Linked DNA regions of Homo sapiens: regions 1, 2, 4 and 5 are each linked to region 3. The links come from fine-mapping of genetic effects on gene expression. A gene starts in region 3. Each other region holds a variant in brackets. All regions are shown on one strand. Distances are from middle to middle. Region 1 overlaps WASHC4 (WASH complex subunit 4). Region 2 overlaps APPL2 (adaptor protein, phosphotyrosine interacting with PH domain and leucine zipper 2). Region 3 holds the start of WASHC4 (WASH complex subunit 4). Region 4 overlaps APPL2 (adaptor protein, phosphotyrosine interacting with PH domain and leucine zipper 2). Region 5 overlaps APPL2 (adaptor protein, phosphotyrosine interacting with PH domain and leucine zipper 2).

Evidence for each region.
Region 1: its variant is fine-mapped to the expression of WASHC4 in whole blood (INTERVAL, PIP above 0.99). The same link has a PIP of 0.9 or more in tibial nerve.
Region 2: its variant is fine-mapped to the expression of WASHC4 in skeletal muscle (GTEx, PIP above 0.99).
Region 4: its variant is fine-mapped to the expression of WASHC4 in skeletal muscle (GTEx, PIP above 0.99).
Region 5: its variant is fine-mapped to the expression of WASHC4 in amygdala (GTEx, PIP above 0.99).

The regions. Positions count from the first base shown.
Region 1 is chr12:105,152,435-105,157,568 of GRCh38, reverse strand. WASHC4 (WASH complex subunit 4) reads right to left here. Exons shown (of 33, transcript NM_015275.3): 26 at 5,118-5,134; 27 at 777-843; 28 at 247-333. Among named protein-coding and RNA genes, the nearest start is that of WASHC4, 47 kb to the right of the region's middle. The variant C/AGAAC (reference allele first, on the strand shown) is at 2,518.
Region 2 is chr12:105,177,015-105,182,148 of GRCh38, reverse strand. It overlaps APPL2 (adaptor protein, phosphotyrosine interacting with PH domain and leucine zipper 2), which reads left to right. Exons shown (of 21, transcript NM_018171.5): 18 at 4,887-4,923; 19 at 5,133-5,134. Among named protein-coding and RNA genes, the nearest start is that of APPL2, 57 kb to the left of the region's middle. The variant G/C (reference allele first, on the strand shown) is at 3,179.
Region 3 is chr12:105,105,466-105,110,465 of GRCh38, reverse strand. It overlaps WASHC4 (WASH complex subunit 4), which reads right to left and starts at 2,735. Exons shown (of 33, transcript NM_015275.3): 1 at 2,605-2,735. The coding sequence starts at 2,665. It overlaps LOC414300 (a long non-coding RNA gene), which reads left to right and starts at 2,824. Exons shown (of 2, transcript NR_121211.1): 1 at 2,824-3,678. RefSeq lists enhancers at 469-628, 2,467-2,626 and silencers at 2,187-2,436, 2,647-2,926.
Region 4 is chr12:105,186,200-105,191,333 of GRCh38, reverse strand. It overlaps APPL2 (adaptor protein, phosphotyrosine interacting with PH domain and leucine zipper 2), which reads left to right. Exons shown (of 21, transcript NM_018171.5): 15 at 1,179-1,343; 16 at 1,510-1,562; 17 at 2,887-3,061. Among named protein-coding and RNA genes, the nearest start is that of APPL2, 47 kb to the left of the region's middle. The variant T/C (reference allele first, on the strand shown) is at 2,867.
Region 5 is chr12:105,217,571-105,222,704 of GRCh38, reverse strand. It overlaps APPL2 (adaptor protein, phosphotyrosine interacting with PH domain and leucine zipper 2), which reads left to right. Exons shown (of 21, transcript NM_018171.5): 3 at 4,980-5,039. Among named protein-coding and RNA genes, the nearest start is that of APPL2, 16 kb to the left of the region's middle. The variant C/T (reference allele first, on the strand shown) is at 2,028.

The sequences.
Region 1 (5,134 bases), 47 kb before region 3:
GTGTGGACCAGCCAAATTTTAGGTGCTCAAGAGCCATGTGTGGCTAGTGGCTGAAATACTGGACAGCATGTTCTAGAAGCTGGAAAGGTCTTAGAATACTGAAGTCTTAAAAATTATACTTCATAAACTGAGGCCATAATTTTGTATAATAAAAACAGTGGCATAAAAATTACATATTACCCTCTGGTCTTCTCTTCAGAATGTTTTTTATAAACACACTTTTTTATATTTCCAAATTTAGATTACCTTGCTGCTTTTAATGTTTCTTCTGCAAGACCTTCTTCTTTTACTAGTTCTTCAAAATTTACAATATCTTCAAGATCAGGAACAAATCTACATAAGAATTTGGGAAGGCATTTATTAGGTCAAGTAAAATATGTGCAATTGACACAGATATAAAAGTGGTACTGCAGGACTCTAAAATTTTCAACTATGTATTTGGAAACAACTGTGCATTTCAGTAATATTATTCATATCACCACTTTAGTTCCAAATTGAATTTTAGATATGAATATTTTAATCCTTAAAATCATGTAATCTTTACATGCATTCATAAACCATATTGATAAATTAACTTAAGAGAAATATTTTCAGAAGTCTGCTGCAGTCTTAAAATTTGAGAAAAATCTAGTAGAATTAATAGTTTTCTTCCATATTTTATCTCAAAATATATCAAGAACAAACACCTTATCTACAATATCACTTGTAACATATATTTAATGGACACAATTTTTAAAATGGCATAAACAAGGCAAAAATGATGTTTGCATCCATACCTAATGGCATTGCTGCTACAATGAAGACCACCAGATCTTATCATTCGTACATAGCCCATAGCATTACCTTAAAAACCACACAAAAAAATCAGATATTTATATAAATAACTCTAAATTCTAATAGGAATATAGTTACATACAGTAGTAAATTACAAGGTTTCCACTCCTAAGAACCAAAATATTTTGCTATATTTTACTTCAGTTCTTATCATAAAAAGTAAAACTGTTACATATTTCTACACTTAAAATATAAACATACATACTTATATATAACTATATTAAATATTTAAAAGTAAATGTTATTTTCATTTGATAAACTAAAATCATTAAATGCTGACTACATTAAAATGGTCAAGCTTAAAATTATAATATCAATAATTTCTCCTCTCACATTGAGATTCAATCTCCGCCACATACACAATTGGAAGTGATATCAAGAAATCTTTATTTGATGCCTCCCAAATTTATATCTCTGGCCTGGACTCTTCCTCTGAACTCTAGGTTTTTTTATCCGATGCCTACACTTTTATGTCTAATAAGAATTTTATATTTCATATGTCCAACTCAAGCTCAGGATCTTTATCCCCAATTTTGCCTATCAAAGAAACTGGCAATTCTATCCTTTCAGTTGCTCAAGCCAAATGTCTTAAAGTCATCCCTGGCTCCTTTCTCTCACATTTTATAATCAAAATGACTGGGCAAATTATATTGACTTTGCCTTGAAAACGTAGCCAGAATCCACCCACTTTTCATTCACCCCTTCATAGATATCCTCCTATCCAATCCATCACCAGCTCTTGGCTGGAGCACTGCAATATGCAATGGCCTCCTGATTTCCCTACTTTCACCTTTAGCATCCTGCCACATTCCCCAGTGTTGTATAATATCTACAGAGCTGCTAGTGAATTTTTAAAAACTAAGTTAGAGCGTATAGTGCTTTTTCTTTTTTTTGAGACAGAGTCTCACTCTGTCACCCAGGATGGAGTACAGTGGTATGATCTCAGCTCACTGCAACCTCCGCCTCTGCAGTTCAAGCGATTCTCCTGCCTCAGCCTCCCAAGTAGCTGTGATCACATGGCGTCCGCCACCACGCCCGGCTAATTTTTGTATTTTTAGTAGAGATGGGGTTTCACCATGTTGGCCAGGCTGGTCTTGAACTCCTGACCTGAGGTGATCCACCCACCTCGGCCTCCCAAAGTGCTGGGATTACAGTGTGTGAGCCACACATGCCCGGCCCCATATCATGCTTTTTCTGAAAATGCTGTAATGGCTTTCCACCCTCAGTAATCAAAATCCTGACATCGATCTTGCACCCCTCTGCTACTGTTCAGATAGCATGCCCTGCCACTTAGATCTTTGCTCACTCCATTCCAGCCCCTATTTCTCAAAAATGTGAACGAATCAGGGCTTTTGCACTTACTGTTGCCTCTGTCTGGTAGACTCTTTCCCCAGATGCACGTGGCTTACTCCCCAACCTTATTTAGGTCCCTGCTCAAATGTCACCTCCTGTTTTCCCTGAACATCACTGACTAGCACTGCCCAGCCCCCTTACATCTCCTTACCCAGTACTTATCACTGACATACTATGTATTTTTCTGTCTGCATCTTCCCCCACCTAGAGTTCAAGATCCATGAGTACAGCCTTTGTCTTCTTCACTGCTCCATCCCTAGAGCCAACATGTCCTGGCAAATAGTAGGAATTCAATTTATAATTGAACTTTATTGAAATTACTTGAAAGAA[C/AGAAC]AGACGGAAATGTAAAAACAAGTTAACATTTCATAATCATGAGTAACATACATTTTACATACATTATCTTATGTTTTTAACAACCCTACATAGCAGTTAACATTGAATCTATTTTAAGGCCTGTCCCAATATGAGAAATGACATTGAAATTTTTTTAATGTGCATCTTTAAAAAGTCAAATGACAAGTTTGTTTTCCTCCAAATCATCAGACCAAAGTCTGAGGAAGCAAAATAGGAGAGCCTAGTATAGAGCGGCAATTAAGAGTAAAAGCTCTGAAGCCAGGCCACCTGGGTTCAAATCTGGTCTCCCACATGTTAGCTAAGAGACCTACAAATTATGTTATGTTACCTCTCTGTATCTCAGTCTTCTCATCTGGTAAATTAAGCTCAATAAGGACAGAGACTTTGTTTACTGTCATAAATATCATCAGCACCTAGAAACATTTGTTGTACTGAATGAATACCTGTGCAGTGAATGAAGGGAAGAAATATTTCATAAATGTTGTGGTAAGATTCACGTGAGTTAAAACATATAAAGCACTAAGAATAGCCATGGCACAGTAAATGCTCAATAAATGTTAATTATTATTATTTCAGCAGGCAAGTTATTAGTCAAAAAGGCTTCCATTTTGCTCCCAGATTCTTTACACCTTTTCTCAAGATATTTATCAGACTCAAAAGCACATTACAGTGTTTTATAAGCAGAGGTAAAGAATTTGTATTGGCCGGGCGCAGTGGCTCACGCCTGTAATCCCAGCACTTTGGGACACAGAGGCGGATGGATCACGAGGTCAGGAGATCGAGACCACCCTGGCCAACATGGTGAAACCCTATCTCTACTAAAAATACAAAACTTGGCTGGACGTGGTGGCATGCACCTGAAGTCCCATATACTAAGGAGGCTGAGGCGGGAGAATCGCTTGAACCTAGGAGGCACAGGTTGCAGTGAGCTGAGAACATGCCACTGCACTCCAGCCTGGGTGACAGAGCAAGACTCTGTCTCAAAAAAAAAAAAAAAGAATTTATATTTTCTAAGAAGAGAATAAAGAGTAAAACGATGGATTAAAATGAAAAGGATAATATTCCCCAATTGTGGACTGCAACCTGGTGGTAAGCAAGGTGACATTAGATGGCACACCAAAGAACACTTAGTGATTATGTATTTAGGGCAAAAATGACTAGCATTTTAAGGACTATGATTTAACAACTGTTATTTCTAAGGAAAAATTATACTCTCAAAAAAAATAAAAACATGTAACAATAGTGAAGGCAGTATTAACAGGATGCAAAAATTCTGGGTATGTGTATAAATAAAACTTAAGTAACACTGCTCTAGAAGGACAGCTCTTAATCTGAGGTCCATAGACCCAAGCTTTAAGCACATGGACTCTAGCATATCATACACAAAATTGTGTACGTATGTCATATAGGCATTAGTTCTGGAACAATCATCCTGGAGTTTTCCTCAGATTCTCAAAAAAGGTTAAGAACTATTGCTCCATAAGTTTGCCGCTTAATATTAAATGTCCACTTGAAGAAAACTTATTTGTACTTATTTGACAATACTTAATATTGAATGGTTTATAATAAAACATTTACAAAGGTAAAATCCTCCAAGTTCTTGTACTAAAACATAATAGAAATGTCTAATATGCAAATCAATTAACTGAAAAAACTTTACTCCAGAATGAAATGCTTATAACGTATTACCCACTAGTAAACCTAAAGTCTCCTGAAAGCAAAGGGGTTGGTATTCCCAGCACCTAACAGAAAATGTGGCATAACAGATGCTTAGTAAATGCTTGATAAATGAATAAATCAATCTCACAAGGCAGAATTTTCCCAAAATATAGTCAATAAGATTTTACTGTTTGGTGTTAATATAAACTTTCAAGAATATAAAACCCATTTGGACTTATAGCTAAATAACCCTGGTTTAAGTCCCAGAAACATGACTTACTTCTTTCTCTAAGTTTCTCTTTTTTCATCTTTAAAACGATTACATGCCTATCTCACAGGGTTATTGTGAACATATAATGTATGTGAAAAGCTCAAATAAGTATAAAGTTTTGTTAAGCGATGATTATGAAATGTAGTTCTTACTTTTAAATATAAAAGTACTACATATCAGAAGACAAGTTCCACTCGTAAGGGCAGAAGGACAATACATTATATGCACAAGTAAAATGGTGTAACATAGAACTTAATAACTTTTCATGTAAATATTTTATACCTTCACATTTAGACTGGAACTTGTGGGAGCCTTTTAGAAGCCCAAAACAGTGCCTTGAACAGAGCAGGTATTCAGTAAGTACTTACCAGTTTACAATTATTAATATGACCTTTGAGATTTAGTTATTAAATAACTTTAATTATAATTGAAGAGGTTTTATTTACGTGATTAGCCTATAGTCTATCAATTATTTCTGCAGCAACAGTCTAATCATACTTACAAATTTTGGGGGTAAAAAAATTACATGAGTGGAGTAAAGCTGAGCTCAGGCTTTCACATGAGCTGCTTATTAGTGTGAAATAGTTAATATATGAGATAGACTGTAGGGATCTGTACCTGATTTCCCAACACTTTTATCATAACTTACCAATCTGGCTGATGAGT
Region 2 (5,134 bases), 72 kb before region 3:
GAGGCTGGAGCAGGAGAATCACTTGAACCCAGGGAGGTGGAGGTTGCAGTGAGCCGAGATCATGCCATTGCACTCCAGCCTGGGCAACAAGAGCAAAACTCCATCTCAAAAAAACTGGAGAAGCAAGAGTAAACAAATTCAAAAGCTAGCAGAAGACAAGAAATAACTAAGATGAGAGCAGAACTGAAGGAGATAGAGACACGAAAAACCCTTCAAAAATCAATGAATCCAGGAGCTGGTTTTTTGAAAAGATTAACAAAATTGATAGACTGCTAGCCAGACTAATAAAGAAGAAAAGAGAGAAGAATCAAACAGACACAATAAAAAATGATAAAGGGGATTATCACCACTGATCCCAGAGAAATACAAACTACCAACAGAGAATACTATAAACACCTGTATGCAAATAAACTAGAAAATCTAGAAGAAATGGATAAATTCCTGGACACATACACCCTCCCAAGATTAAACCAGGAAGAAGTTGAATCCCTGAATAGACCGATAACAAGTTCTGAAATTGAGGCAATAATTAATAGCCTACCAACCAAAAAAAAGCCCAGGACCAGATGGATTCACAGCCACATTCTACCAGAGTTACAAAGAGGAGCTGGTACCATTCCTTCTAAAACTATTCCAAACAATAGAAAAAGAGGGACTCCTCCCTAACTCATTTTATGAAGCCAGCATCATCCTGATACCAAAACCTGGCAGAGACACAATAAAAAAACACAATTTCAGGGCAATACCCCTGATGAACATCAATGCAAAAATCCTCAATAAAATACCAGCAAACTGAATCCAGCAGCACATTAAAAAGCTTATCCACCATGATCAAGTTGGCTTCATCCCTGGGATGCAAGGCTGGTTCGACATACGCAAATCAGTAAATGTAATCCATCACGTAAACAGAACCAATGACAAAAACCACATGATTATCTCAATAGATGCAGAAAAGGCCTTCGATAAAATTCAACACCCCTTCATGCTAAAAACACTCAATAAACTAGGTATTGATGGAACATATCTCAAAATAATGAGCTATTTATGACAAACTCACAGCCAGTATCATACTGAATGGGCAAAAACTGGAAGCATTCCCTTTGAAAATTAGCACAAGACAAGGATGCCCTCTCTCACCACTCCTATTCAACATAATATTGGAAGTTCTGGCCAGGGCAGTCAGGCAAGAGAAAGCAATGAGGGTATTCAAATAGGAAGAGAGGAAGTCAGATTATCTCTGTTTAAAGATGACATGATTGTATGTTTAGAAAACTCCATCGTCTCAGCCCAAAAACTCCTTAAGCTGATAAGCAACGTCAGCAAAGTCTCAGGATACAAAATTAATGTGCAAAAATCACAAGCATTCCTATACACCAATAATACACAAACAGCCAAATCATGAGTGAACTCCCATTCACAATTGCTACTAAGAGAATAAAATACCTAGGAATACAACTTACAAGGGATGTGAAGGACCTCTTCAAGGAGAACTACAAACCACTGCTCAAGGAAATAAGAGAGGACACAAACAAATGGAAAAACATGCCATGCTCATGGATAGGAAGAATCAATATCGTGAAAATGGCCATACTGCCCAAAGTAATAGTGCTATTCCCATCAAGCTACCACTGACTTTCTTAACAGAGTTAGAAAAAACTACTTTAAATTTCATATGGAACCAAAAAAGAGCCCGCATAGCCCAGATAATCCTAAGCAAAAGGAACAAAGCTGGAGGTATCATGCTACCTGACTTCAAACTATACTACAAGGCTACAGTAACCAAAACAGCATGGTACTGGTACCAAAACAGATATATAGACCAATGGAACAGAACAGAGGCCTCAGAAATAACACCAAACATCTACAACCATCTGATCTTTGACAAACCTGACAAAAACAAGAAATGAGGAAAGGACTCCCTATTTAATAAATGATGTTGGGAAAACTGGCTAGCCATATGCAGAAAACTGAAACTGGACCCCTTCCTCTTAACACCTTATACAAAAATTAAGTCAAGATGGATTAAAGATTTAAATGTAAGACCTAAAACCATAAAAACCCTAGAAGAAAACCTAGGCAATACCATTCAGGACAGAGGCATGGGCAAAGAGTTCATGATGAAAACACCAGAAGCAATGGCAACAAAAGCCAAAATTGACAAATGGGGTCTAATTAAACTAAAGAGCTTCTGCACAGCAAAAGAAACTATCATCAGAGTGAACAGGCAACCTACAGAATGGGAGAAAATTTTTTCAATCTATCCATCTGACAGAGGGCTAATATCCAGAATCTACAAAGAACTTAAACACATTTACAAGAATAAAACAACCCCGTCAAAAAGTGGGTGAAGGATATGAACAGACATTTTTCAAAAGAAGACATGCGGCTGACAAACGTGAAAAAAAGCTCATCATCACTGGTCGTTAGAGAAATGCAAATCAAAACCACAATGAGATACCATCTCACACCAGTTAGAATGGCGATCATTAAAAAGTCAGGAAACAACAGATGCTGGAGAGGATGTGGAGAAATAGGAACGCTTTTATACTGCTGGGAATGTAAATTAGTTCAACTATTGTGGAAGACAGTGTGGCGATTCCTCAAGGATCTAGAACCAGAAATAACCATTTGACCCAGCAATCCCATTACTGGGTACATACCCAAAGGACTATAATCATTTTCTATAAAAACACATGCACACTATGTGTATTGCACCACTATTCACAATAGCTAAGACTTGGAACCAACCCAAATGCCCATCAATGATAGACTGGATAAAGAAAATGTGGCACATATACACCAAGGAATACTATGCAGCCATAAAAAAGAATGACTTCATGTCCTTTGCAGGGACATGGATGAAGCTGGAAACCATCATTCTCAGCAAACTAACACAGGAACAGAAAACCAAACACCGCATGTTCTCACTCATAAGTGGGAGCTGAACAATGAGAACATATAGGCACAGGAAGGGGAACATCACACACTGGGGCCTGTTGGTGGGTGGGTGTCAAGGGGAGGGATAGCATTAGGAGAAATACCTAATGTAGATAACGGGTTGATGGGCGCAGCAAACCACCACAGCAACATGTATACCTATGTAACAAACCTGCACGTTCTGCACATGTATCTCAGAACTTAAAGTATAATAATAAAAAAAGAGAAATCTAGGTTACCT[G/C]ATTTAAACAGCAAACTTCTGAAAGTGACCCACAAAATATGCATGTGTTAAGTTTTCACTTATAAGGGAATTTTACAAAATACCTATGAAAGTTATTCCAACTTGAGGAAAACTGTTTATGATCTATATTCAAAAAATTAAATTCATGCCCATTAATAGGGACGTAAAAGTAACTTTTCTTAAGCTTTGTCTACTTAAATTCCCATACACACTTCTCATTAACTGTCATAACCACCTCTTGGAAGTGGGGGTTCTTACCACAGTTTTACAGATGAACCAGTTGTAAGAAGTCCGGGTGACTTGCACAAGATCAGGTGAGTAGCCAGGGTAGAACTCAATCTCGAGTTCTCTGATTATAAGTCTTACGGTTTAATAAGTGTAACTGCACGTATTTCCAACTGTAGCCTTTTGTTGGGGGCATGGGGGTGTAACAGTTTTACTGAGATATAATTCACATACAATTTAAATGTACAATTCAGTGGTTTCTAGTATATTCAGAGTTGTACAACCATCATCACAATCAATTTTACAACATTTTCATCACCTCAGAAAGAATACCCATTAGCCCCTGGCAACCCACCCAGCCCTAGGAAGCCACTAACCACTAAAATTGCCATCTCTATAGATCTGGACATTTAACATATAAATGGAATCATAACCATTTTTTCCACAAACTATATTTTTGCTTTCACCTATAAAATGTATAGTAATAATTTACATAATAGCATGTTAATTATTCCAACACGAGTACAATACAGTAGAAATTTATAACCACTTATCTAAGATAGCAATAAATTCTCTCATATAGTTTATTTTCTAGGATATGTCAACCTGATTATTAGATGATGCTTAAAATACTGTTGAAGAAATATATTCTGAAGGCCTGGCGCGGTGGTTCATGCCTGTAATCCCAGCACTTTGGGAGACTGAAGCAGGCAGATCCCCTGAGGTCAGGAGTTCGACACCAGCCTGGTCAACATGGTGAAACCCCACTTCTACTAAAAATACAAAAATTAGCCAGGCATTTTGGCTGACACCTGTAATCCCAGCTACTCAGGAGGCTGAGGCAGGAGAATCGCTTGAACCCGGGAGGTGGAGGTTGCAGTGAGCCAAGACTGGGCTGCTGCACTCCAGCCTGTGTGACAGCAAGACTCTTCTCAGAATAAATAAATAGTAAATAATTAAAACAAGGAAATATATTTTGGAATACTTTCTTAAACATTATTCCTCTTTTACCCAAATTGATAAGAGTTTTGTCAAAATCCCTTCACTATTTTGTCACCGCTACCTCATCTTTTTCAATAATGTTAAATTTAGACTAAGTTGATCTTGCACTTCAGGGACATTAAAGTTGCCAATGGATGTTTGTTGAGAGGGAGGCTGTACAGAATATAATCCATCCATATTATATAGCAGATCTGTTGAGGATTATAATGCTGTCTGTTTGGGTAAGTTGCAGAATCCTGTGAAGTTAAATCTTCTACTTGCTATATAATCTTCCATTATAGGTACCCTGAGCTTTAGCTACACAGGTTCCTTAAAGGCAGAAAGCAGGACACGTGGTCACACACAGCTATCTCGCCTCACCCTCTAACAGGCTTTATCTCTATTTCGGGGAATTTGTATTTATTCTGGACTTCTACAAACTCTTCTAGGAATATTAAATTTATCCAACATTTGTGACATAATGTATCTTTTAAAATTTCAGGTTGATAGATCCACAGACTCAAGTATCAAGGGCCAATGTAAGTACCGCATACAGGTTCATGTTAGTGATTACTCCTTAATTCACCTTTGTATCTACCTTAAACACAGCCTAGGCACTTTATTAATAAAGATCTGCCACTAATAGGACTAATAGGATACTTTTTCTCATGACTTTTCCAGAGAGTAGCCTTGTCAGTTTTTAATTCTAGTAGTTGTATGATCTGTTGCCTTTTTTTCCACCCCCCAGTT
Region 3 (5,000 bases):
TAAGGAATCATTGGAATAAGCTGGATTTTAAAATATGCCTATTCGTCAAAGTATTTCACGTTACACATAAAAATTCATTACTTGTTCCCAAAGGTAACAAATTCAACTCCAACTCAGTTTCTTTTATTGATATGAATAACTTTATTCAACCTTTGTCTTCTAAAAAAGGTAAAAATTTGCTCTCCTCAAATTAGCAATGTGAAGCAAGTAAGAGAAAGTGTGTTCTGACTCATGCTGTATTAAAGTATAAAGACCTAGCCCCCACTCTCCTTTATTCTTCAACCACATAAAGTTTTAAATCCGGTGAATCCATTTAGTTCATTAAGGTTTCTGTCTTATTATAGCATTAATCTAGGCAATTTTGGAAAACAATTAGTCTAGATATGATTCACAGACCAAAAATTAATGAACGCCAAGCACAGGGAGGTGTTCTCTTCCCTACAGCTTACATATAAGACTGCCCAGATTCTCAGAACCCCAAATAGTTGTCTTATTCTCAACTACACAGGAAATGACCAGTCAAAGCTGCATTTGACCAGCAAATGACTTCTTAAAGACAATGCTAGGCCGGGCATGGTGGCTCACCCCAACACTTTAGGAGGCCAAGGCCGGTGGGTCGCTTGAGACCAGGAGTTCAACATGGCAAAACCTTGTCTCTATCCCAATTTAAAAAGAAAAAATCAGCCAGCTACTAAGGAGGCTGAGGTAGGAAGATCACCTGAGCTCAGCTGGTCGAGGCTGCAGTGAGCCGTGGCGATGCCACGGCACTGGGCGACAGAGTGAGACCTTGTCTCGAAAAAAAAAAAAAAAAAAAAAGACAATGCTAGAGAAACACCACGCCAATAAATCACTCCTTTAGTATGTTCAGGGATTCACAAACAGGAAACAGAAAACCTAAAATAACATTAAAAGTTCCTTGCTGACAATAAACGGTTGTAAAATTGGTGAAAGTTAAAATAACAAAAGTTGAGATAAGAACTACATGGTAATTTTTTAAGAGTAAAAATTCCAAAAACCTACTTAACATGCTCATCTTTGTCAACAGACTGCACTCCTTGTTTTATCTTTTTATCCCTAATATCTAGCACAGCCACTGGTTGTAGAAAATATCTGTTGAGTGAATCAGACCATTCTACTCCAGGCTGAACCATTTTCAAACTCAATTAACATAACTCTATTCCAATTTTTTTTGAAGATACCAGTTCGTCATCTTTGTCCATAAAACATATATGACAAGGTACAGTTCACTTTATAACAATACAGAATCCCCTCCACAAAAAAAAATTAAAAGATTTTGTCATTATCTCCAAGGTTAATTTTTATGCTGCATAAGAGCTAATACCTTATTATCACCCAGGCTAGAGTGCAATGGCGCGATCTCGGCTCACTGCAACCTCCGCCTGCCGGGTTCAAGCGATTCTCCTGCCTCAGCCTCCCAAGTAGCTGGAATTACAGGCGCTCGCCACCAAGCCCAGCTATTTATTTTTTAGTAGAGACGGGGTTTCACCATGTTAGCCAGGCTGGTCTTGAACTCCTGACCTCAGGAATGTTTTGTGAAAAACTGCAACCCATCCTGGATGTAGCTCACTCTTCTCTGAGAGACTTGTAAAACCTAATTCATCTAACATTGTAGGCATTAGTCTCTCTTCGTAAATCAAGCAAAATTCATCCGGAATTTTTAAAAGCAACGTTCCACCTTTTGGGAAAACTATGAGGGAAAAAAAAAATCACAAACAGCATGCTCCAATCTCTCTTAGATCACTTACACAGATTACTATGACCAAAGATAAGAAGCAGATTGCCAACTTGTATTTATTTCAAGTAGAGTTTCACTACAATTAATTTGGCCTCAATATTTTACTGAAAGAAACACAATTTGTTTATTTCGGGATAGACTTCTAAGTTAAAATCAGACAATTCGATCTTGTGAAGCAAAATTTGAAGATTTGCTGTAATTTTTGAAGCCTTTATAACTGCGATGGAAACTGCAGAACATCACTGAAAAATATCACTTAGCATAAATAAAAGGCCTGGAAAATGATAAAATGACATTCACGTGTTTATTTTCGCAGGGTGAAAAGTTCTTTTTTCGCTCCCTTCTACGGTTATAGCAACGCGATGGGAAAGACACCCAAACTTGCAAAAGTTGATTTGGGAGGAAAAGAAGAAAAACAGGAAACCGAAACAGGAACCCAGACATCAGCGTCCTCCAGAGCTGAACGCTCAGAATCTGGCGAAATCCCCAAGAGGCCAGAGACAGAAGCAGCCTGGGATCCCGGGGCCGCTGGGCCTCCCGGGCGCGCCCCGCCCAAGCCCCGGGGCAGCTGAAGGGGGACGCCGCTCCCCGCGGGGCACCGCAGGCTCCCCAGGAGAGTCTCCGCCTCACACGCCGAGCCCTGAACGGGCAGCCTGACCCGCCGTGGCTGGGACCCCAACCCCGAAAGTAACGCTGGAGAGCGCGTCCCTCGCACACCCCAAGGGCTCTGAAGTGTCCCGCACCAGACGGCTGCGCAGCCGTCCCTCTCGCAGGAGCGCTGCCCAGCCCAGAACAGCGGCGGGCCGAAGGAGCGTCCACCCGCAGCCCTCGCCCTGCAGCTCCCTTACTCTGCGAGCCGTCGTCAACGCGGTCAAACTCCCAGTCCGGGGACAGAGTCTCCACCGCCATCACCCCGGCGCCTCCCACAGACACAGCCCCAACCAGCCCGTGCGGCGACGACGGCCTCACCCCAGCTACTGTCACAGCACGTGACTTCCGGCCCCGGCCCCGCCTCCGCTCGCGAGGGCCGGCCGGGCTCGTTGCCCCTGCGACCGCGGGGGCCCCTGGGAAAGCGAGTCCTCCGCCGTGGCCGAAGGCGGCCGCCATGGCGCCGGCAGTGCCAGCGGGCGTCTTGCGACCCGGCTCGGGCTTCGCCACCATTCACTGTGCTTCTCAAGCCACTTCGGCACTCTAATTTCGCCCTGCTCTCTCTAGACGATTTTTAATACCTGGGAAAGTTACTCCCCAGTCTAACCTAAAAAGGTAGAATTGATGGGGTGGGGAATTAACAGGAAGGCATGATCCTCGAGGATAACGCTGACCAGGCGCTTCTTCCAACAAGCCTGTTTCCCTCTCTGTCGCCACCGTAGGAGTTCCTACAGCTCTCCCGCACATTCTGTACGGATTGTTTTTTAGTCAAGACGTTCTGTGCGAGAGGAGAAGTTACTTTATGAACACCCTAACAGGGGATCTTACGACCTCTTCCCCGCTCTCCACTCAGTCCTTTTAAAAACGCGAGGCAGGATGAAGAACGCTATTGAAGTACATTCTAAAATGATCCCACCTGCAATTTGGATTTTTGGAGAATCGGGATCGGTGTAAAATTCTACATGCATACACGTATTTGCACAAGAATATTTATAGCAACGTGGTTTTTAATAGGAAACTATCTAAATGTTCATTACAAGTGAATTACATAAAGCTCAATACATCCATACTACGAATCACTGAAGAGCTGCTAAAATAGATGAAATATATTTATAATGGCATGAACAACCGACACAAGACAGTTGCAGAGTAATGTGTATTTGTGATTACATTTATGTTTTTAAGTTATACAAACGCGTATGTGCCTACGTGTATGTAAATTCATAGGAAGACAAATCAGAGGACGGTGGTTACCTGGGGAAAAGCATGTGTTGGTGAGTAACAGGATTTTCAAGTTTTGATGTGTCTACTTATGTGTTTTGAATCCTTAACAATGAGAATTTATTAGGGTTTTACTCTTGTAATCTTAAAAAGTACCGAAAAGAACTAATCAATGTAGGCAAAAGGTCTATTGAAGAGCATTCTTCTGAGGTCATTGGATCTGCCCTGAGTTAAATGTTTATTGAGTGCCCACTGGGTACCAGGCACCAGGCTAGATGCAGAAACTATAAAACATGTAAGAAAATTGCTTTCTGACCCTATGGCAGACTTAGTGGGCATTTCAGAAAGAAAAAAAAAATCTTGAAAAGAACAGGCATCCTTAGGGTCTAATGGCTGACAAACTTTTTTCCTGTACTTTCTGTGTGACCATGAGTTTGACTTTCCTGGATTCTTAACATTTGCATTAAATCACTGTAATTAATCTCCCAGCAGCTCATTGTGATAAATTGAACTTACAAGTCAGAAAAATTTGAGTCTATAAATACACTAATCTATTAAAGTTAATAGATTAGTAGCAAGAGGCAGTGTCATGTAATAATTGAAAGCACAGTTTTGACTGCCAAATTGCCTAGGTCCAAATCCTGGCTCTGCCACTTACTAACCATGTGATCTTGGGTCACGTAATTTAACCTCTGCCTCAATTTCCTCATCTATAAAATGAAAATAAAATAAAACTAGTAAACACCTTGTGGGATTCTTACGAGGACTAAATTAGTTAATACATATAAGGTACATAGAACAATACCAACCACATACTGTACCAGGTTGCTATTATGAATCAATATAGATTTATCTTAAAAAGATCTCAGAAGTCCCAGATCTCACAAGTCCCAGTGTGGTGGCTCATGCCTGTAATCCCAGTACTTTGGGAGGCCAAGGTGGGTGGATCACTTGAGGTCAGGAGTTTGAGACCAGCCTGGGCAACGTGGTGAAACCCTGTCCCTACTAAAAATATAAAAATTAGATGGGCATGGTGGTGCCTGCCTATAGTCCCAGCTACTCTGGAGGCTGAGGCAGGAAAGTCGTCTGAGCCACTACACTCCAGCCTGGGCAACAGAGCAAGACTCCATCTCAAAAAAAAAAAAAAAACTCAGGGATTTTCTGTCTTGATCTTAAATATGTTTAAATCAAATTTCACAGCCTATAATTTCAAATTTTGTTAGAGAATTACAAATTAGATACCAAATAGAAAAGCACATTCACTAAATGAAAAGTGCTATCTGAAAGTTATTTATAAAAATGTCCTATTGTTCTTAGACGTAGTCTGCAGAAGGCAAATCATTATTTTAAGTAATCACATATTCTTCATTCTACT
Region 4 (5,134 bases), 81 kb before region 3:
GAGGAGACCCCTGTTTATAATCTGGCTCGCCCACCAGGTAACTGAGTGCCTTCAAAACTGCTCAATTTCTCCAGAGGCCTCAGTTTCCTTTTCTGTTAACAATGGAGGTCAGACCAAGTGGTCTCCAAGGGCTTGCCTTGCAGTGACCATCTACAAGCCTATGTACTGTTTCATCCACATTCCAGTCATTATGATCATTTGTCAAATGCCTGTTGTAAAGTAGTTTGATACACTACATTCAGTTATTGACATGTTTGAGAAATAGGAAAATATTGACATATCAAATGAACAGAAAGATCACTGAGAGCTTTTTAAGGTCCAGGCAATGAAAGAAATCAAAATACATTGATATTCTTTGCCCTTCAAAGGAGTTTATAGTCTGGCTGAGGAGAAAAGATTTTTAAAACGTTGAAAAGTTAAATTACAGTATTCTGAGACTGGAGGAGAAGAACATGTTGGTTCCTGATTAGTCTGTCCACAGAGAGCACAGTATTTGATGGGCCACAATGTCAGCAATGAGTGTGGGCACAATGCGAAGCTCAGGAGGCACACAGGGCCGCAAGACTGTGCCTGTGACTTACTGAGAAGAATCACAGGAGTTCAGAGGAGGGAGGCGGGGTGCCGGCTGGCCTAGTGGATAAGGAAGAATTTGAGCTGGGTTGGGAGAGTTGGGTGAGCAGCAGAATTGGGATAAAGATGGAAATAAGGAAAAGCATGTGGTATGTGTGGTACAGCTCTCGTAGAGGGTGCATTAAAGGAGTGGAAAGGGAGGCTTTTGGGGAAATTAGAGCCAGATGGTGATTAAATGCCAAGCCAGGACCTTTGGTTCATTCAGCTAACATTTTTTAGTGCCTACTATGTTCCAAGAATACATATGACTTAGCTATAGCATAGGCCCTCCAAAACCTGCCTCACAGAGAAGGATACAGACAGAAAACTAGTAACACAGTGCAGGATGCTGTGCAGCAGAGAGAACTGCAGGAAATGGGGCAGACTGAAGGTTTTTAGCCAAGGATATGAAGGAAGTTTGAAGAAGGTTTATTTGTAGAATGGATTAAGGGATTGAGGTCAATCTTTCCCCTTGTATTTTCATTCATAAAAGTCACCTCAGCCTTCAACAAGTATTCACTTGATTATAAAAGCGTAAGGTTAAGGGAATTGATTTTTTTCCCCTTCAGCCAGAACCTGAAAAATTCAGAGATGGAAAATGAAAATGACAAGATTGTTCCCAAAGCAACAGCCAGTCTACCTGAAGCAGAGGAGCTGATCGCGCCTGGAACGCCGATTCAATTCGATATTGTGCTTCCTGCTACAGAATTCCTTGATCAGAACAGAGGGAGCAGGTATGGGCTGAGAGAGGTTATCTCTGGGAGAACTGAAAGTAAATTTGAGGTATCTTGTGTCCCCCTCCACCACCAAAGACTGTTGCCATTCTGATTTCCAGTTCAAGTGTTAAGTGCCCTTCTAGCTGCAGCTGTCGTGTTTGTTCAACTCTGGCTATTCCCCTAGGCGTACCAACCCTTTTGGTGAAACTGAGGATGAATCATTTCCAGAAGCAGAAGGTAAGTGACTAGTTTGGTGTCCTTATTCTTTCCTCTGCACAAAATGACAACGGCCATTGAAATAAGATGTGAAATCATGTTTTAGAGAGCTATGATTAGGAGTATGAATTAAGATTTGTTGTTCTGAAAGTTTAGTAAGATATCTGCAGTGGAGGCAAGTCTTGGATAAAAACTGAGGGGTAGCTGAAAGACCACCTACAGCTATTTCACCATTAGCCATAGCGTTTTTGTAGCATAGCATAGAAATGTTGTGAAATCTGAATCTGTTATCACATTCAAATGCAGTCTTGGTGAACTGGAAATACGCTGTGTCATTTTAGAAAACCAAAAGCACAAATAACTTGTTCTTGAATTTGAAGATGACACAAATGATATTTAAGTCTTTCAAATTCAAATTTTTGGTTTTTTACATTCTTATAATGTACTTAAGAACGTATCTGATGGCCGGCACGCTGGCTCACGCCTGTAATCCCAGCACTTTTGGAGGCCGAGGCAGGTGAATCACGTGAGCTTAGGAGTTCAAGACCAGCATGGGCAACACAGTGAGAACCCTGTCTCTACAAAAATATATATATATATACAAAAATTAGCCAGGTGTAGTGACAGGTGCCTGTAATCCTAGCTACTCAGGAGGCTGAGACATGAGAATCACTTGAACCTGGGAGGCGGAGGTTGCAGTGAGCTGAAATCATGCCATTGCACTCCAGCCTGGGCTACAGAGTGAGACCCTGTCTCAAAAAAGAAAAAAAAGAAAAAACCTTCTTTGGTCTTCTAGTTATGGTTGCTGGGAGTCAGTTTTGTCAAGTTATGCGCCACTGTCAGCAGCCAGGACTGACTTCCTTTAGGCTATGAAACATCATCACTGCCTTTCCGTAATACACATGAAGTATGAATTGCATGAGACCCAACATGAGATCTTATATCCTGCAAATAAAATTTCTTTTCTAAGAGGACTTTATCAGTGGGCCAAAGTAATGAATTTTCTATTGTCTAGTGAACTCACTCTTTTCAGAGAAAAGGTACAATGTAGTCACCTAGAGTTTCAGCATTAGAAGGATGTTCATCTGGTACCACCATCATTTCATTTTATAGATGAAGAAAAGCCTTTCTAGTCTAATGAAGTAGTTCCAAACAAACTGACAAGATGTAGACAAATGGAAGACGCAGAGCTTTGGCAATATTGGGCTTATAAAAGTGGTATTGAGAAATTTTGGTAGAAAGTCCTCCACAGAAAGCAGGCAAAACTAGCACATCTGACCCTGGTATGCAGATCAACAGCAGCAGGAAGTAAATGAGATCCTGAG[T/C]GGAAAATGCTGTCTTCCAGATTCTCTTTTGCAGCAGATGTTTATAGTTCGGTTTTTGGGATCAATGGCAGTTAAAACAGACAGCACTACTGAAGTGATTTATGAAGCGATGAGACAAGTATTGGCTGCTCGGGCTATTCATAACATCTTCCGCATGACAGAATCCCATCTGATGGTCACCAGTCAATCTTTGAGGTACGTTCAGTTTTATTTTCAGACTTTCTTATGGCTTCAGCTAATTCCCCTTTTAAGGCTAATGCACCCATCTGAAATGTTAGTACTGGAATGAAGAGACTACTCTTGCTTTTGCCCCCACTACTTTTTACATAAGATAGATAGCCTAGAAAGTGCTCCCTTAGAGACAAGAACTGGTATCTTCAAAAATCCAGTGGTGAGTGAATACTGTTGTTCACAAAGATGCCATCACACTAGACTTATTCTCTATATTATAGCTCAGAGCTTGAAAATGGAAGTTTTTTGGTTTTGCTTTTTTTTTTTCATTTCTGAGAGTACTATTTATAAAAAATAATGGAAAAAAACTTAAAAATCTGCCTAAATAACTTGGCCATCACAGAGAGAGCAGGCCATATTAACTACATGATTTAGTGTTTCAGGTAATACGATCTGGGTTTCAGATATGACCAAAATCCTGGTTATGAACATGGGTGTATGATACTGTAGCCACAGGTAGCATCTGCAGCAAAACTAGCCTGAACTGAGATGTGTTTTCAGTGTTAAATACATACCAAATTTCTAAGATTTAGGATGTAAAACATCTCACTAATTTTTTAGGTTAATCACATGTCTGGTAATATTTTAGATATACTGGATTAAGTAAAATTAATTTTATCTGTTACTTTTCACTTAATGTGGCCGCTGGAAAAACTTCGATGACATATAAGGCTTCCATTACATTTCTAAGGGACAGCACTGCTTTAGAGCCAGAATGTCTCAGTTTATTCCTGGCTTCGGCATTTCTTAGTTATGTGACCTTAAGCAAATTTTTGAGCCTCTGTACCTCAGTTTTTTCAGCTGTAAAATGAAAGTAACTATTCACACCCTCCACTGTTGTCATGAGGAATAAATGTCATGAGGAATAAATGTGCTAATATATGTAAGACATTTACAACTCACTGGCACATGAAAAGTGCTCAATGAACGTTAGCTTCAAAAAAGGTAACTAGGACTATAGCAAAAATTAGGATATAGCTTCTTCCATTCATTAAGCCCATCCTTTTCATTTATTATGAACCTTATCTGAGAATTAAGTTCTTATTAATAAAACCTGTTCTTTCACTATGTCCTGGACCTTTTACAGAAATGGGCTCATGGTTCTTATAATCCTATTGGTCCTGGAATAATTTCCACCAAAAAGATCAAAGGAAAATATATGTAAAAGTACTGTGAAAAACCACAGCACATCAAAGTGAAAAGAAAAACTACAGAATGGGAAAAAAGTATTCACAAATTCTATCTAATATGGATGTAGTACACAAAATATACAAAGAACTCTTATAAAACTCAACAGAAAGACAACCCAATTAAAAAATGGACCAAGGACTTGAAATAGACATTTTTCCAAAGATCATATACAAATGGCCAATGAGGACATGAAAAGATGCTATGTGTTACTAGGGAAATGCAAAACAAATCCACAATGAGATATGTCACTCCATATTAAGATGGCGTGCGCACGCATGCACACTGTCTCACAGATGTTTATATATATATGATATATATGATATATATATGATATGATATATGATATGATATATGATATATATATGATATATCATATATATGATATATATGATATCGATATCATATATATGATATATATGATATATATATGATATATATATTTAATGGAAAATAAGCGTTTAGCAAGGATGTGAAGAAACTGGAACCCATTGCTGGTGGGAATATAAAATGGTTCAGCTGCTGTGAAAAAATAGTTTGGCGGGCTCCTGGGTAGTTACCCAAAAGAATTAAATACAGGTGTTCAAACAAAAACTTATACGCAAATGTTCATAGCAGTCCTTTTCGTGATATCCAAATGGTGGAAATAATACAAATGCCCAACATCAAATGAATGGATCAACAAAATGTGGTAGAGTTGAGCATTCCAAATCTGGAAATCTCAAATGCTCCAAAATCTGAAACTTTTTGAGTGCCAACTTGATGCTCAAAAGAGATGCTCATTGGAGCATTTTGGATTTTGGGATGCTCATCCTGGTAAATATAATGCAAGTATTCTAAAATCTGAAA
Region 5 (5,134 bases), 110 kb before region 3:
TTGCCAGTGCCCTACACCATGTCTGGCCCCATTCAGTGTTTGGTAGGTAGCAGTCTGGCCCCATAGGTGTTGAATGAAGGACTGAATTTGGGACAGCTCCACCTAAAAGCAAGGACATCTCAACGGCACACTTTGTTGTCATTTCCAAATTCATATCCCCTCCTCAGTTCCTTGGCTGAAGGCACCGTTCTCCATCTGGCCTTCCACATGGGCAGCACAGTTCTTTCTGACTCCCCCGCCTTCCTCACTCACCACACCCTGCTGTTTCTGCCTCAGGAATACCTCCATGCCCCGCTCTGCACTGTCTGCCTCAGGCTCAGACACTTGTTTATCTCAGCTTCTCCAAGTGGCCTCCTGATCAGTCCCCCTCATCTATTCTCTCTCCCACTTCAGTGTTTTCTTCCCACCACCACCACTCCTGGTTTTCTTCCACCCGTGCCTGAGCTTCTCATACTCCTGCCTGAGTTCCTTGGTGCTTCCCCACTGCCGCTGGAATAAAGTCCAGGTCCAGCAGGCATCCCCCCGTGGCCTGCCTCGCATGAGACGCTCCAGCCGCGTTCTTGCCACACCCCTCACTACTCCCTGTGTGCATCCTGTCTCGAGGGGCTCCTGAACTAGTGCGACCCGTGACCGCCAGCTTTGTGATAAACACTGGGTACTGAATGTGACTAGGCAACATCTCCAGCCAAATAGTTGGTATAGATCGATGTGGATTTCCTCCACCCCACTCTCTAGCCTCTCCATTCATATTCACCGTGGATGCTGCTGCGCACAGAGGCCCTTGGGGGTTTCAGGTGACAGTTGCATTTAGTTAGCGTTCTGTGCTACAGAAAGATAAACATTCCTTTGCCAAATGCCCAGTTTTCCTTTCAGGCTTGCTAGCCACTTGATTTTCTGCCTTGGCAACAGCCCCGGGAGGTTCTGTTGAGCATGGGAGATGCTGTCAGCAAACCCTCCTCAGGGTGTCCTTTCAGGGCTTCTCACAAAGCGGTGCATAGTGTAGATGGCAGCCAGAGCGGCCCAGAGTGCCCAAAACAATGCTGCTCATGGAACTCCATTGAGAATTCCCACTTTAGCCCACGTCTTTTGCTCTTCTACCACTAGAAAAGTGTGGGACTTAGGTTCATATCTATGGGCCCTACAGGTCCTGCCCACCTGAGTATTGAGTAGGTGCAATTTTGGACTTTAGATTGGAATAGCATAATAGTCAGAACATGAGCTTTTGATTTCGAGTCCTGCATTAAGTTGTTGCCTGCCAGTCACTAGTCATGTGGCTTTAGAAAGTTATTTATCCTTTCTGAAGCTTAGTCTCCACGTTTACAAAATGGAAATAATAATAGTATCTACTTCATGGGTGCACTGTGAGGATTAAATGTGATAATATATGAAAAACATTTAACAGCAACATCAAGCACTTAGGGCAGACTCAGGGTTAGCAGCTATCTTTATTGATGTTATTGCTAATATTTACTCCTCACTCGGGCTCCAGTTTTGCAAGTCCTGTTGTAGAGATATTTTTGCAGGCCTACCTCACAGGGCACAGGGCGTGGATTAATTAGCTGATGTTGGTAAAGCATTTCTTACAACCTTTGTGTACAGTAGCTTAAGTATGAGTAAGATTAAAGTTGATCTCTTTTGAAAGACTTTTCACACAATGTGCTCTGTTCAGGGCAGGTGACAGGCTGTGTTGTAAGCATGTTGGTTTCCGATGAACTCATACTGGCTGCACAGAATCATAGTTGGTCTTGCACCCTGAAATATTACACATAGGAAAACACGCAGCATTTTCAAATGGTATTCCTAGGAGAGACCCAGAGAGTCTGGTTGTTCGAAGTCGTTTTGGAAGGCAGCTGTTGTGTGTTGCACGCTGTGCCCCTTCTTCCCTGAGCGGAGGTGGAGCTGTGTGGCTGTGTGAGTGGCACATGAGTGCTCTCCCCTTGAGCTTTGGGTACAGCCTGATGCTGGCAGTTCCCTGGCAGGTCTTTCCATTACATTCGGAGCATTTGCCAGTAAGCTCTGAGGAAGAA[C/T]TTGAGTGGCCCATGGTCCCTGCTTGTTTGGAAGGCCTGGAGGGTGGTTATATGTGTTGACCAGTCTCTGAAGGAGGCATATATGGGGAAGTAACATATTAGAGTTGACTAAAATAAAGAAAAGAATGAATTAGAAGAGTAGAAGCTCCTGGGATCTGAAATGGTGTAGCTTAAGAGAGCCTCCTGCAGAGGGTGTGGCAAAAGAATGGGTCTTTGAGACATCTGATGACAAAGCAGGATCAGTAATCCATGGCTCTTGGGCCAGCATCTTATTTTTGTAAATAAAGTTATATCAGAATGAAGCCACATTTACTTGTTTATATGTTATTTCTGGCTTCTTTTGTGCTACAAAGCAGAGTTGAATAGTTGTGGCAAAGACCATATATGGCCCACAAGCCTAAAATATTTACTCTCTGGCTCCTTACAGAAAAAGTTTGCCCACCCTAGTGTAAAGCAGAGGCCTTCTCCTCTCCTGCCTTGTGGTAGAACTTGGGATCTCAGTAGCATTTAGGAGTGTGGATTTTAGAATCGGACAGCTCCAGGTTCACATCCCAGCCCTGCCACTCATCAGCCGTGTATCCTTGCACAGGTGGCTTAATCTCTCAGTGCTTCAGTTTCTTCATCTATAAAATAGAGTTATTAATTAGAACCTGCTTTTACAGGGTCATTGGAATTAGATGAGGTCGTGCACAGAATGCATTTAGCATAGGGTCTGGCATGAATGAAGCCCTCTGTAAATGTTAGCTGCTGTTACAATGATTCTGTGGGTCTGCAAATCATGTTCCACATGGTGCTGCCCTCAGGAACATGCCAAGATAGCTTGAATGAATCCATCTGCTGCTAACTCAGAAAGAAGGAGCACGAGATTTTCAGTCATAGCTGAGTATCAGCCCAGTGAGTGAGATAAGACCTTTGTTTCCATGCACTCTGATCTTCAAAACAACACTGCTAAAGATGGTTGACAGGTAGTAGTCTCTGGCCAATTGCTTTGTATTTTATTTCATTTGTGATGTTTCCTTGTACAGTTAGGAAGGATTTTAAAACCCTTACACCATGATTTCAGGTATTGTTTTAAACTTGGAATTTAGATGAATCTTCTAATCTTGTTCATTCATTCATTCATCAAACATTTGTTGAGGGCTTGCTGTGTGCTAAGAATTGTTGGACGTTCCTATCTGAATGAAGGACATTGTGCTTGTGGCTTTGTCCACTTGCTGACTTCCTGACTATGTGGCTAGAAGTCACATTTCTGGTTAGTTTTGAAAGGGGTTGAATACCAGTAGGATGTCAGAGCCAGGCACTTTTGTTGTATTTGTCTGACTTTCTTCTGAGGAAAAAGAGCCACGTTTCCTGGTCTATTAATGCCTATTCCTTAGGGCAGAGCAGGAAGTCAGGGAACAGGTTGGCCAGTTGTCTGCGAAGAGGGTCAAAAAAAGGTAGGACTTGGCTCTACTGTATTCTGCCAAATAGGACTGGGAAAAATAAAATAAGCTCCTGCAGAGCTCAGGACTTAGCCTTAAAGGAACAACAACCCCAGGAGAAATAGCCAGTGGAGGCCAAGGCCAAGGAGGTAGGCCAGTGTCCTCCCATCATCTGTGCCATGTCAGACCCAGTGGCTCTGCTCCTTAGGAATAAACCCTGAATCTTAAGCTTTAACTGAGCTTTAGAAATGTAAGGCAAGTTTTCTAGGCTGCCCACATCAGTGGTAGGAGGATAGTGGTAGAAAACCGCTGTGTAGCCAGAGATTAGAGGAATAAACAAGAGGAGAGGAAAATGAGCAGTACGGGCTGGTGAAAATGGCACAAAACAGGCCTCCCAGGGCATCGCAGCTCTTGAAGAGCAGTGTTTCCTCTGGTTTTCTGGGATACTTGGGTTTAGCTGTGCTTCTGTTACCATCCATCATTGCCAGCGAGTGTTCTAAGCCTGGTGGAATCTGACCTTGTCATATGCTGCTTCAGTCCCCACTGTGCTTCCAGTATGTGTGAGCCTGGGCCCCGGGGGCCTGCACACCTTCCCACTGCCTCATTCCCAGCCTGATATCACCTCCAAGCGCACAGCTCTTGCCCCAGCCACGCTCCACTTCAGAGCTGTTCAGACAGGCAGTGCATTTCTTCCACGTGTTGGCGCCTCCTGGAAAGCTCGTCCCCATGGCTGACTCCTAGTTTGTCTTCAGAACATCTGTTCCCTGGAGACTGTCTGTCAGAGCCTCCCAACACAGCCAGTATTTTTCTTTTGCAGTTCTCATCACACTTGTAACTATTTTTTTGATGCGTGCTTCCCTGAAAAGCCCCATGAGGACAGGGACTGTGCCCTTGTTGAATGTCTGGCACATTATAATTGCTCACTACATTTCTTTATGGACTGACTGACCAGAAGGAGCAGTCATTTGTAAAGGGTTAAAAAATAAAATAGCAAGCTTTAACCTTTTGATTTGTTTTGGTATTGTTTTCCAAATGTCTGAACAAAACATTTTATTATTTGACAGGCACACACATATGCTTTCTTCTTCTTTTTTCTTTTAGCTCCATATGGTGGAAAGGGATTTTTTTTTCTTTTATAATTTTTTTTTAGAGACAAGGTCTCACTCTGTCACCCAGGCTAGAATGCAGTGGCACAATGATGGCTTACTGCAGCCTCAACCTCCTGGGCTTAAGGGGTCCTCCCATCTTAGCCTCCTGAATAGCTGGGACTACAGGTGCATGCCATCCTGCCTGGATAATTAAAAATGTTTTTATTTTGCAGAGATGGAGTTTTGCTGTGTTGCCTAGTCTGGTCTCAAACTCCTGGTCTCAAGTGATCTTCCTGCCTCAATCTCCCAAAGTACTAGGATTATAGGTGTGCACCACTGGACCCAGCCAATATTACTTTTTAAGGGATTCTCAGAGATGGCATTTTTCAGTGACTATGTATACATTGGACTAATCTTACTTGCTTTTTCTCTTCTCTCCACAGAATGAGATGTGCCTGGCCACACAACAGCTTTCTAAGCAACTGCTGGCATATGAAAAACAGGTAACTTGGTATTTATGTGGCCTGTGATGCTGCTGTGTTCAGGACTTTCTTAAGTGGAATTATCCAGAGGCATCCTTAGAGACCTAAATTATTTG